Regions from separate parts of the Homo sapiens genome. Here region 1 is linked to region 2. A link means that fine-mapping ties the variant in region 2 to the plasma level of a protein whose gene starts in the linked region. Region 2 holds a variant in brackets. A gene starts in the other region. All regions are shown on their forward strands.

Region 1 (5,364 bases), not on the chromosome of region 2:
CCAACATGGTGAAACCCCGTCTCTACTAAAAATACAAAAATTAGCCAGGCGTGGTGGTGCGTGCCTATAGTCCCAGCTACTTGGGAGGCTGAGGCAGGAGAATCACTTGAACCCTGGGGGCAGAGGTTGCATTGAGCCAAAATGCTCACCACTGCACTGCCAGCCTGGGCAACAGAGCTAGATTGCTGTCTCAAAAAAAAAAAGAAAGAAAAAAACAACAACAAAAAAACACTAATCAGGGACCACTATTAATAACAGACATTCCTATCACTTGGGAGATTCCAAGGAGCTTAGAGGTTACTTTGGAGGAACCCAAGACAAAAATGAAACTAATTCCTCATTATACAAGAAGTGGCTTATACATGAAAGGATTGACTCAGCAGGTCTGCTGTGTTCAAACCCTGCACATTTCAGAGAAAATTCTGGCCTGTGACCAGCCCTGAGAGATGAGATTTAAATTACCAAAATATGCTGCCTGATAAGTCTTTGTTTTTCTGGGGCCTTGGGCCATGCCAGATATTTGATGCTAATAATGTGATTTGTGGCAGGGGCCTTTGGCCGCCCAGTATCAGTTTGAACTCTGGAGAGTGAGTAACTGAGGTCAGCCACACAGGTAGTCCACGCTTTCATCACTGACCTCCAATAAAAACACTGGACACCAAGACTCAGGTGAGCTTTTGTGATTGGCAATACTTCATGCGTGCTGTCACATGTTATTGCTGGAAAAATCAAGTCCTGTCCATATAAATCCACTGGGAGAGGAAAAACTGGAAGATTGAGATTATTTTCTCCTGGACTTGGCCCTAGAATATTTCACCTTTGATGGCTTTAACATGTATCTTTTCACTGTAAGAAACCATAATCAAGGCTGGGCACGGTGGTTCATGCCTGTAATCCCAGCACTTTGGGAGGCTGAGGCAGGCGGATCACAAGGACAAGAGATTGAGACCATTCTTGCCAACATGGCAACACCTCTGTCTCTACTAAAAATACAAAAATTAGCTGGGCGTGGTGGCAGGTGCCTGTAGTCCCAGCTACTGGGGAGGCTGAGGCAGGAGAATCGCTTGAACCCAGAAGGTGGAGGTTGCAGCGAGCCGAGATTGCACCACTGCACTCCAACCTGGCGACAGAGCGAGACTCTGTCTCAAAAAAAGAAAAAAAATGAAACCATAATCATGGTATAACCATTTGGAAGTGTTAGTGAATCACTGGCCTGAGGTTGGTCTTAGGGAACACCAGTAAAGTCATCTTCCCCTACATTTGGCAAACAGCCTAATGCTTGACAAAGCACTGGACCACCCAGCCTCTCTGAAGTCCTCATTACAATTGCTCAGGACAAAACCTATTAATTATCCCAGGTACACTTTTCCCCTTTATATTCCACAATTGTCATGGGCAAGCACTGTCAACTCTCCCTGTAACACACACCCTCTATTGAACCCCTTGTCTCTGTCTCTAGTCTAACCACTGGAACCCAAGCCCAAACCTTGTTGCCTGGAGCCCCGCTCTCCCCGGACCTGTTCCCACTCTGCCCCAATCACACAGGCCTTCGTCCCAATCCCTGAACAGTGCGTCAGGGCCTCTGCATGGCCCTTTCCATGCCTGGACTGTCCTCTCCCAGATCAGCTCAGCAATGGTTCCTGCCACAATTCTGCTTACACATCACCTCCTCAGAGACACCGTCCCTCCCCATCCTCTCTAACACACCCTCTGCTCACCCACACCAGCGGGCCCTAACTTCTCTCTACTTCAAACTGTGCTTCTGTTACTGTTTTGCTTCTATTATTATTATTATTATTATTTGAGATAGAGTTTTGCTCTTGTTGCCCCGACTGGAGTGCAATGGCATGATCTTGGCTCACTGCAACCTCCACATCCCAAGTTCAAGCGACTCTCCTGCCTCAGCCTCCCGAGTAGCTGGGATTACAGGCGTGCGCCACCATGCCCGGCTAATTTTGTATTTTTCATAGAGATGGGGTTTCACCATGTTGGCCAGGCTGGTCTCGAACTCCTGACCTCAGATGATAGCTCCCACCTTGGCCTCCCAAAGTGCTGGGATTACAGGCATGAGCCACCGTGCCCAGCTGTTTTTCTTCTATTATTATTGTTCTTGCAGGAGCTGGTAAAGTGGCTGATGTGGCCACAGCTCCATAAATCCATGTGGAACGAAGGGTGGACATCGCCTGAGTCCAGGAGACAGGACAGGGTCACTCATCTCTGTCCCTGGTGATGGAAACTCAGGCTCAGGAAAGAGCCTTGACCTGCCCTGGGTCACAGAGAGAATATGAGGGTCAGGGCTCAAGCCCAAGTGCTGTCTTCAGGCCCTTAGGCTGCCTCTCACACCCAGACTAGGAAGCTGGAGCAGAAAGTTTGCTAGAACAATCCTGAGAAGAGGCCTGCACAGTTCAAGGGGCAGCTTGGAGGAGGAGAGGAAGGGAGGGCGGGCTCTGGCCAGCAGGCTCTTGGACCTCAGGCCAGGCTCTGGCAGCTGCGTCTGGTATCAGGACTGCAGGTCCCGACAGGGGGCGGTGGCTCACGCTTGTATTCCCAGCACAGTCGCCAAGCCTAATGTCCCTTCCAACGGTGGAAAATTTTGGTAAAAATCAATGACAGGCTGGGCGTGGTGGTGCATGCCTGTGATTCCAGCTACTCAGGAGGCTGAGGCACGAGAATCTCTCGAACCCGGGAGGTCTAGGCTGCAGTGAGTGGAGATGGTGCCACTGTACTCCATCTGGACGACCGAGCAAGACTCTAACAACAACAACAAAAAAAACGGACTGCAGGTGCAGTGCCCAGCACAGAGCCTGCTACATAGGAATTCTCATTTTCTTCTCTTCCCTACTCTTTCCTTCCTTTATAATCTCTTCCTTTCCCTCTGAAGTACCGACCCCAGAGCTTGAGATCTCATCCCAGCCTCCCTCTTATTGCCATCCTCCCCTGCTGCCTTCCCCACACCCCTACCTCTCACAGGGTGGGGGTAGGGCCTCCTGGGACCCCAGTCCCAGCCCCAGCAGCAGTAGCAGGCACAGCTCCCAGGTCCTCCCTGGCATGGTGGCTGTGACTGTGACTGAATGAGCAAGCCCAGGCACCTTCGGCTTGCTGGGCACAGCCTGGCTCACCTGCCTGTCCAAGTCGGCCAAAGTCCAGCCTTTGAGGCGTGGCCACCTGAGGGGACGTGTGCTTGGTCTGTGTGTGGCCCGCTTGCCCCTCCTGCTCTCAGGGCACAGTGGCCACCTCCCTTGCTTCTACTTTGCCTCTTCTATTTCACAGTCTCAGCTGGTGCCAATGGCTCAGGCCCTTCCCTCAGAGCATGGTGGTGGGGGTGGGGAGTGGGCACCCAAAGGCCAGGGACACAGTCGAGGCCACACACCTGTAACCTGGATGCCAGGTTCCTTGGGTGGCCCCAAGACCACCAACCTCAGAGAGTTACCATTTCCCTTAACATTTCAAATGGAATGGCTCAAGATCCTGTCCCTGGTGTGGTGTGAAATTCAGGGCCTCTCACTGTTATCTGCAAGAGATACAGCGGAAGCACAGGACAGTAGAACCATTCTGTCTGGGGAGGACTAAGGGAGACCCACAATAGTGTGTCATTTGTAATGAGTCTTTTTTTTTTTTTTTTTGAGACTGAGTCTCACTCTGTCGCTAGGCTGGAGTGCAGTGGCGTGATCTCAGCTCACTGCCACCTCCGCCTCCCGGGTTCAAGCAATTCTCCTGCCTCAGCATCCTGAATAGCTGGGACTACAGGTGCCCGCCACCACGCCCAGCTAATTTTTGTATTTTTAGTAGAGACGGGGTTTCACTGTGTTGGCCAGGATGGTCTCAATCTCTTGACCTCATGATCTGCTCGCCTTGGCCTCCCAAAGTGCTGGGATTACAGGCGTGAGCCACTGCGCCAGTCCTAATGAGTCTTGATGACCGCATAGGAGTTTGCCAAGGGAAATGGGCTGGAGACCACTACAATGTATGCAGAGCATGTGAAGAGAAGAGCAAACCCCTCAGCCTAGCTGCAGAGAACTTGGTGTTCATGCAGGGAAGGGTTTTGAGATAGACTGGAGGAACATGTTGGCACCAGTCTGGAAATGGTCTTTGCCAAGCCAAGGAATGTAATTCCTTGTAATTCCCCAAAGTGGAACCAGCAGAGAAGTTTGTGAGCTTAAGAAGCAGATTCAGGCTGGGTGCAGTGGCTCATGCCTGTAATCCCACCACTTTGGGAGGCCGAGGCGGGTGGATCACCTGAGGTCAGGAGTTCAAGACCAGCCTGGCCAACATGGTGAAACCCCGTCTCTACAAAAATACAAAAATTAGCTGGGCATGATGGCGGGTACCTGTAATCCCAGCTCCTCAGGAGGCTGAGGTGGGAGAATCGCTTGAACTCGGGAGACAGAGGTTGTAGTGAGCCGAGATCATGCCACTGCACTCCAGCCTGGGCGACAGAGTAAGTCTCTGTCTCAAAAAAAAAAAAAAAAAAAAAAAAGCAGATTCGGTTACTTTAGGAGGCTCATCCCCTCAACATATGGAAGGTGAGCTGAAGGGACAGGGGACAGGGGGTGGGCAAGGCACATGGAGTTTAATGATAGGCATGACCTCTCCTGAAGGACTTAGGTTTGCAGTTAAGGATGTCAGTTGTGGCACCTGAGCAGTGTTTACTGCTATTAAAAAGAAAAACCTTAGACAAATTAAATTTAACCATTTATTCAAGCAAAGAAATGACTCATGAATCAGGCACCACTCTGAACTAGTAAAGGTTCAGATAGCTCCACCCAGTAATGTGGGCAGCTGGCATTGTTTTTTTTGTTTGCTTTGTTTTTTGAGACAGGGTCTCGCTCTGTTGCCCAGGCTGGCATGCAGTGGCTCCATCACAGCTCACTGCAGCCTTGATCTCTCAGGTTTAAGGGATTCTCCCACCTCAGCCTCCTGAGCAGCTGGGACCACAGGCACATGCCACCACGCCCAACTAATTTTTAAATTAAAAATAATTTTTTTTTTTTTAGAGATTGGGTCTCCCTATGTTGTCCAGGCTGGTGTGGAACTCCTGAGCTCAAGCAATCCTCCTGCCTCATCCTCCCAATGTATTGGGATTACAGGTGTGAGCCACCATGCCTGGTCAACAATTTTTAAGTGTACAATTCAATTTCCTTTTATTACATTCACAATGCTGTGCAACCACCCTTGCATTCTTTGGATAAATCTCACTTGGTCATGATGTCTAATCCTTTTAATAAACTGTTGGTTTTGGCTTGCGAGTATTTTTTTGAGGAATTTTGCATCAATATGTATAGAGCATATTTGACTGTAATTTTCTTTCCTTGTTTTGTTTTGTTTTTTTTTTTTTTTGGACACATAGTCTTGCTCCATCACCCA
Region 2 (5,364 bases):
CAGAAGGATAAGATTCCAGAAGAGAAAGACAAAGCCTTAGAACAAAAGGATACAGCCCTGGAACAGAAGGACAAGGCCCTGGAACCAAAAGATAAAGACTTGGAACAAAAGGACAGGGTCCTAGAACAGAAGGAGAAGATCCCAGAAGAGAAAGACAAAGCCTTAGATCAAAAAGTCAGAAGTGTTGAACATAAGGCTCCGGAGGACACGGTCGCTGAAATGAAGGACAGAGACCTAGAACAGACAGACAAAGCCCCTGAACAGAAACACCAGGCCCAGGAACAAAAGGATAAAGTCTCAGAAAAGAAGGATCAGGCCTTAGAACAAAAATACTGGGCTTTGGGACAGAAGGATGAAGCCCTGGAACAAAACATTCAGGCTCTGGAAGAGAACCACCAAACTCAGGAGCAGGAGAGCCTAGTGCAGGAGGATAAAACCAGGAAACCAAAGATGCTAGAGGAAAAATCCCCAGAAAAGGTCAAGGCCATGGAAGAGAAGTTAGAAGCTCTTCTGGAGAAGACCAAAGCTCTGGGCCTGGAAGAGAGCCTAGTGCAGGAGGGCAGGGCCAGAGAGCAGGAAGAAAAGTACTGGAGGGGGCAGGATGTGGTCCAGGAGTGGCAAGAAACATCTCCTACCAGAGAGGAGCCGGCTGGAGAACAGAAAGAGCTTGCCCCGGCATGGGAGGACACATCTCCTGAGCAGGACAATAGGTATTGGAGGGGCAGAGAGGATGTGGCCTTGGAACAGGACACATACTGGAGGGAGCTAAGCTGTGAGCGGAAGGTCTGGTTCCCTCACGAGCTGGATGGCCAGGGGGCCCGCCCACACTACACTGAGGAACGGGAAAGCACTTTCCTAGATGAGGGCCCAGATGATGAGCAAGAAGTACCCCTGCGGGAACACGCAACCCGGAGCCCCTGGGCCTCAGACTTCAAGGATTTCCAGGAATCCTCACCACAGAAGGGGCTAGAGGTGGAGCGCTGGCTTGCTGAATCACCAGTTGGGTTGCCACCAGAGGAAGAGGACAAACTGACCCGCTCTCCCTTTGAGATCATCTCCCCTCCAGCTTCCCCACCTGAGATGGTTGGACAAAGGGTTCCTTCAGCCCCAGGACAAGAGAGTCCTATCCCAGACCCTAAGCTCATGCCACACATGAAGAATGAACCCACTACTCCCTCATGGCTGGCTGACATCCCACCCTGGGTGCCCAAGGACAGACCCCTCCCCCCTGCACCCCTCTCCCCAGCTCCTGGTCCCCCCACACCTGCCCCGGAATCCCATACTCCTGCACCCTTCTCTTGGGGCACAGCCGAGTATGACAGTGTGGTGGCTGCAGTGCAGGAGGGGGCAGCTGAGTTGGAAGGTGGGCCATACTCCCCCCTGGGGAAGGACTACCGCAAGGCTGAAGGGGAAAGGGAAGAAGAAGGTAGGGCTGAGGCTCCTGACAAAAGCTCACACAGCTCAAAGGTACCAGAGGCCAGCAAAAGCCATGCCACCACGGAGCCTGAGCAGACTGAGCCGGAGCAGAGAGAGCCCACACCCTATCCTGATGAGAGAAGCTTTCAGTATGCAGACATCTATGAGCAGATGATGCTTACTGGGCTTGGCCCTGCATGCCCCACTAGAGAGCCTCCACTTGGAGCAGCTGGGGATTGGCCCCCATGCCTCTCAACCAAGGAGGCAGCTGCCGGCCGAAACACATCTGCAGAGAAGGAGCTTTCATCTCCTATCTCACCCAAGAGCCTCCAGTCTGACACTCCAACCTTCAGCTATGCAGCCCTGGCAGGACCCACTGTACCCCCAAGGCCAGAGCCAGGGCCAAGTATGGAGCCCAGCCTCACCCCACCTGCAGTTCCCCCCCGTGCTCCTATCCTGAGCAAAGGCCCAAGCCCCCCTCTTAATGGTAACATCCTGAGCTGCAGCCCAGATAGGAGGTCCCCATCCCCCAAGGAATCAGGCCGGAGTCACTGGGATGACAGCACTAGTGACTCAGAACTGGAGAAGGGGGCTCGGGAACAGCCAGAAAAAGAGGCCCAATCCCCAAGTCCTCCTCACCCCATTCCTATGGGGTCCCCCACATTATGGCCAGAAACTGAGGCACATGTTAGCCCTCCCTTGGACTCACACCTGGGGCCTGCCCGACCCAGTCTGGACTTCCCTGCTTCAGCCTTTGGCTTCTCCTCATTGCAGCCAGCTCCCCCACAGCTGCCCTCTCCAGCTGAACCCCGCTCGGCACCCTGTGGCTCCCTTGCCTTCTCTGGGGATCGAGCTCTGGCTCTGGCTCCAGGACCCCCCACCAGAACCCGGCATGATGAATACCTGGAAGTGACCAAGGCCCCCAGCCTGGATTCCTCACTGCCCCAGCTCCCATCACCCAGTTCTCCTGGGGCCCCTCTCCTCTCCAATCTGCCACGACCTGCCTCACCAGCCCTGTCTGAGGGCTCCTCCTCTGAGGCTACCACGCCTGTGATTTCAAGTGTGGCGGAGCGCTTCTCTCCAAGCCTTGAGGCTGCAGAACAGGAGTCTGGAGAGCTGGACCCAGGAATGGAACCAGCTGCCCACAGCCTCTGGGACCTCACTCCTCTGAGCCCAGCACCCCCAGCTTCACTGGACTTGGCCCTAGCTCCAGCTCCAAGCCTGCCTGGAGACATGGGTGATGGCATCCTGCCGTGCCACCTGGAGTGCTCAGAGGCAGCCACGGAGAAGCCAAGCC[C/T]CTTCCAGGTTCCCTCTGAGGATTGTGCAGCCAATGGCCCAACTGAAACCAGCCCTAACCCCCCAGGCCCTGCCCCAGCCAAGGCTGAAAATGAAGAGGCTGCGGCTTGCCCTGCCTGGGAACGTGGGGCCTGGCCTGAAGGAGCTGAGAGGAGCTCCCGGCCTGACACATTGCTCTCCCCTGAGCAGCCAGTGTGTCCTGCAGGGGGCTCCGGGGGCCCACCCAGCAGTGCCTCTCCTGAGGTCGAAGCTGGGCCCCAGGGATGTGCCACTGAGCCTCGGCCCCATCGTGGGGAGCTCTCCCCATCCTTCCTGAACCCACCTCTGCCCCCATCCATAGATGATAGGGACCTCTCAACTGAGGAAGTTCGGCTAGTAGGAAGAGGGGGGCGGCGCCGGGTAGGGGGGCCAGGGACCACTGGGGGCCCATGCCCTGTGACTGATGAGACACCCCCTACATCAGCCAGTGACTCAGGCTCCTCACAGTCAGATTCTGATGTCCCGCCAGAAACTGAGGAGTGTCCGTCCATCACAGCTGAGGCAGCCCTCGACTCAGATGAAGATGGAGACTTCCTACCTGTGGACAAAGCTGGGGGTGTCAGTGGTACTCACCACCCCAGGCCTGGCCATGACCCACCTCCTCTCCCACAGCCAGACCCCCGCCCATCCCCTCCCCGCCCTGATGTGTGCATGGCTGACCCCGAGGGGCTCAGCTCAGAGTCTGGGAGAGTAGAGAGGCTACGGGAGAAGGAAAAGGTTCAGGGGCGAGTAGGGCGCAGGGCCCCAGGCAAGGCCAAGCCAGCGTCCCCTGCACGGCGTCTGGATCTTCGGGGAAAACGCTCACCCACCCCTGGTAAAGGGCCTGCAGATCGAGCATCCCGGGCCCCACCTCGACCACGCAGCACCACAAGCCAGGTCACCCCAGCAGAGGAAAAGGATGGACACAGCCCCATGTCCAAAGGCCTAGTCAATGGACTCAAGGCAGGACCAAGTAAGTATATCATGAAACTTGGCAGAGAGTGTGGGTTAGGGCTGGGTGTGGGCTGGTCAGACTTCAGGAGTGGGACAGAGGGGAAGGTTGCCAAAAGGGTTCTACTTTTCCTCTACAATGAATCCTGGCTTGTCTCTACAGTGGCCTTGAGTTCCAAGGGCAGCTCTGGTGCCCCTGTATATGTGGATCTCGCCTACATCCCGAATCATTGCAGTGGCAAGACTGCTGACCTTGACTTCTTCCGTCGAGTGCGTGCATCCTACTATGTGGTCAGTGGGAATGACCCTGCCAATGGCGAGCCAAGCCGGGCTGTGCTGGATGCCCTGCTGGAGGGCAAGGCCCAGTGGGGGGAGAATCTTCAGGTGAGTAGCAAAGGACACCAAGGAAGTAGTCTGGTCAACGCTCACTCAGAGGCAGTAGTGGAACACAGTCCCTATTTATTAAAGGATGGGCCTTTTCTAAGGGCAGCAGAGCTGCTTCTGAGACCATGAGGTGCCCCTTCCCCCTCACCTACCTTCCCTTTATGTTCTCACATCAGACATATCTTATCTCCCTTCTAGGTGACTCTGATCCCTACTCATGACACGGAGGTGACTCGTGAGTGGTACCAACAAACTCATGAGCAGCAGCAACAACTGAATGTCCTGGTCCTGGCTAGCAGCAGCACCGTGGTGATGCAGGATGAGTCCTTCCCTGCCTGCAAGATTGAGTTCTGAAAGAGCCGCCCTCCCTTCCCCAAGGATCCACTCCCCCAGCTCCTTTAGAGAATGGCTACTGCTGAGTCCTTTGGGGTTGAGGGAGATGGGAGCTAGGGGGAGGGGAGGGAGATGTCTTGTTGTGGGGACTTGGGCTGGGCTAAATGGGAGGGGTTGTCCCTCCCCATCATCCATTCCTGTGAGGTGTCTCAAACCAAAGTTAACAGGGAGAGGATGGGGGAGGGGACAAATTAGAATAGGATAGCATCTGATGCCTGAGAACCCTCTCCTAGCACTGTCAAATGCTGGTATTGAATGGGGACTGAGGATGGGTCTCAGAGAGCAACCTCCTCCCTCGTAGAGGGAGATTATATCCCCAACTCCAGGGACCTCTTTATCTCAATCTATTTATTTGGCATCCTGGGAGGGATTTCCAATAGTAATTTATGTGACCTGGGGCAGGATACCGTCAGTGAGGTGCCCAGAGCTGCACCCTTTCCTCCATTTCCCATCCCCCATCTCCTCAACCACCAGGGTCTGAGTTCTAGCAGGGTCCTGGGGGTATCCCACTGCTATACTGTTCTACTGCTTCCCTCAGTATCTGAATGTCTCAATTTAAAACTTGAAGCTCTTTAGACCAATAGACTGGTGAGAGGAGAAAGGAGCTTATCCCCCAGACCCTGCTTTATACCATTCACATCCCAGGGCTGTGTCCAGACAGCACAAAACGGCAAGGAGAGCCCAAGCCCCAATGCCAGAATTCTTCCAAACTCCCTGACTCTTTGAAGTTTTTACTCACCCCATTTCAATTATCCTGATCCCTTCTCATCCCCTGCTTGGCTTCTCTGCATGTGGTCATCTGCTGTGGCTTGGTGTTTAATGGGTTAAAAATAAGCCACTGCCTGACATCCCAACATTTGACACCCCAGCAATGTGTGACTCCCCCAACATTCCACTATGCCATCC

Direction of the effects. Alleles are on the strand shown, and positions count from the first base shown. The strength of an association depends on the size of the effect and on how common the allele is.
In carriers of allele C in region 2, the plasma level of the protein whose gene starts at base 3,073 in region 1 tends to be lower than with T alone (weak association).

What was found. A credible set is the group of variants that fine-mapping cannot tell apart. PIP is the posterior inclusion probability: the model's chance that the variant is causal. Protein levels are from antibody-based Olink assays in UK Biobank. Linkage for the fine-mapping came from a reference panel and not from the study's own genotypes, which makes the PIPs less certain.
Region 1: TREH starts here. The variant in region 2 is the best candidate, but not a certain one, in a credible set for the plasma level of the TREH protein (UK Biobank, PIP 0.79).

What each region holds. Positions count from the first base shown.
Region 1 is chr11:118,676,578-118,681,941 of GRCh38, forward strand. TREH (trehalase) reads right to left here and starts at 3,073. Exons shown (of 15, transcript NM_007180.3): 1 at 2,962-3,073. The coding sequence starts at 3,050. RefSeq lists enhancers at 2,303-2,964, 2,965-3,624.
Region 2 is chr15:43,525,806-43,531,169 of GRCh38, forward strand. MAP1A (microtubule associated protein 1A) reads left to right here. Exons shown (of 6, transcript NM_002373.6): 4 at 1-3,703; 5 at 3,845-4,065; 6 at 4,264-5,364. The coding sequence ends at 4,419. Among named protein-coding and RNA genes, the nearest start is that of MAP1A, 11 kb to the left of the region's middle. RefSeq lists enhancers at 1,909-2,541, 3,523-4,023, 4,024-4,524. The variant C/T (reference allele first, on the strand shown) is at 2,714.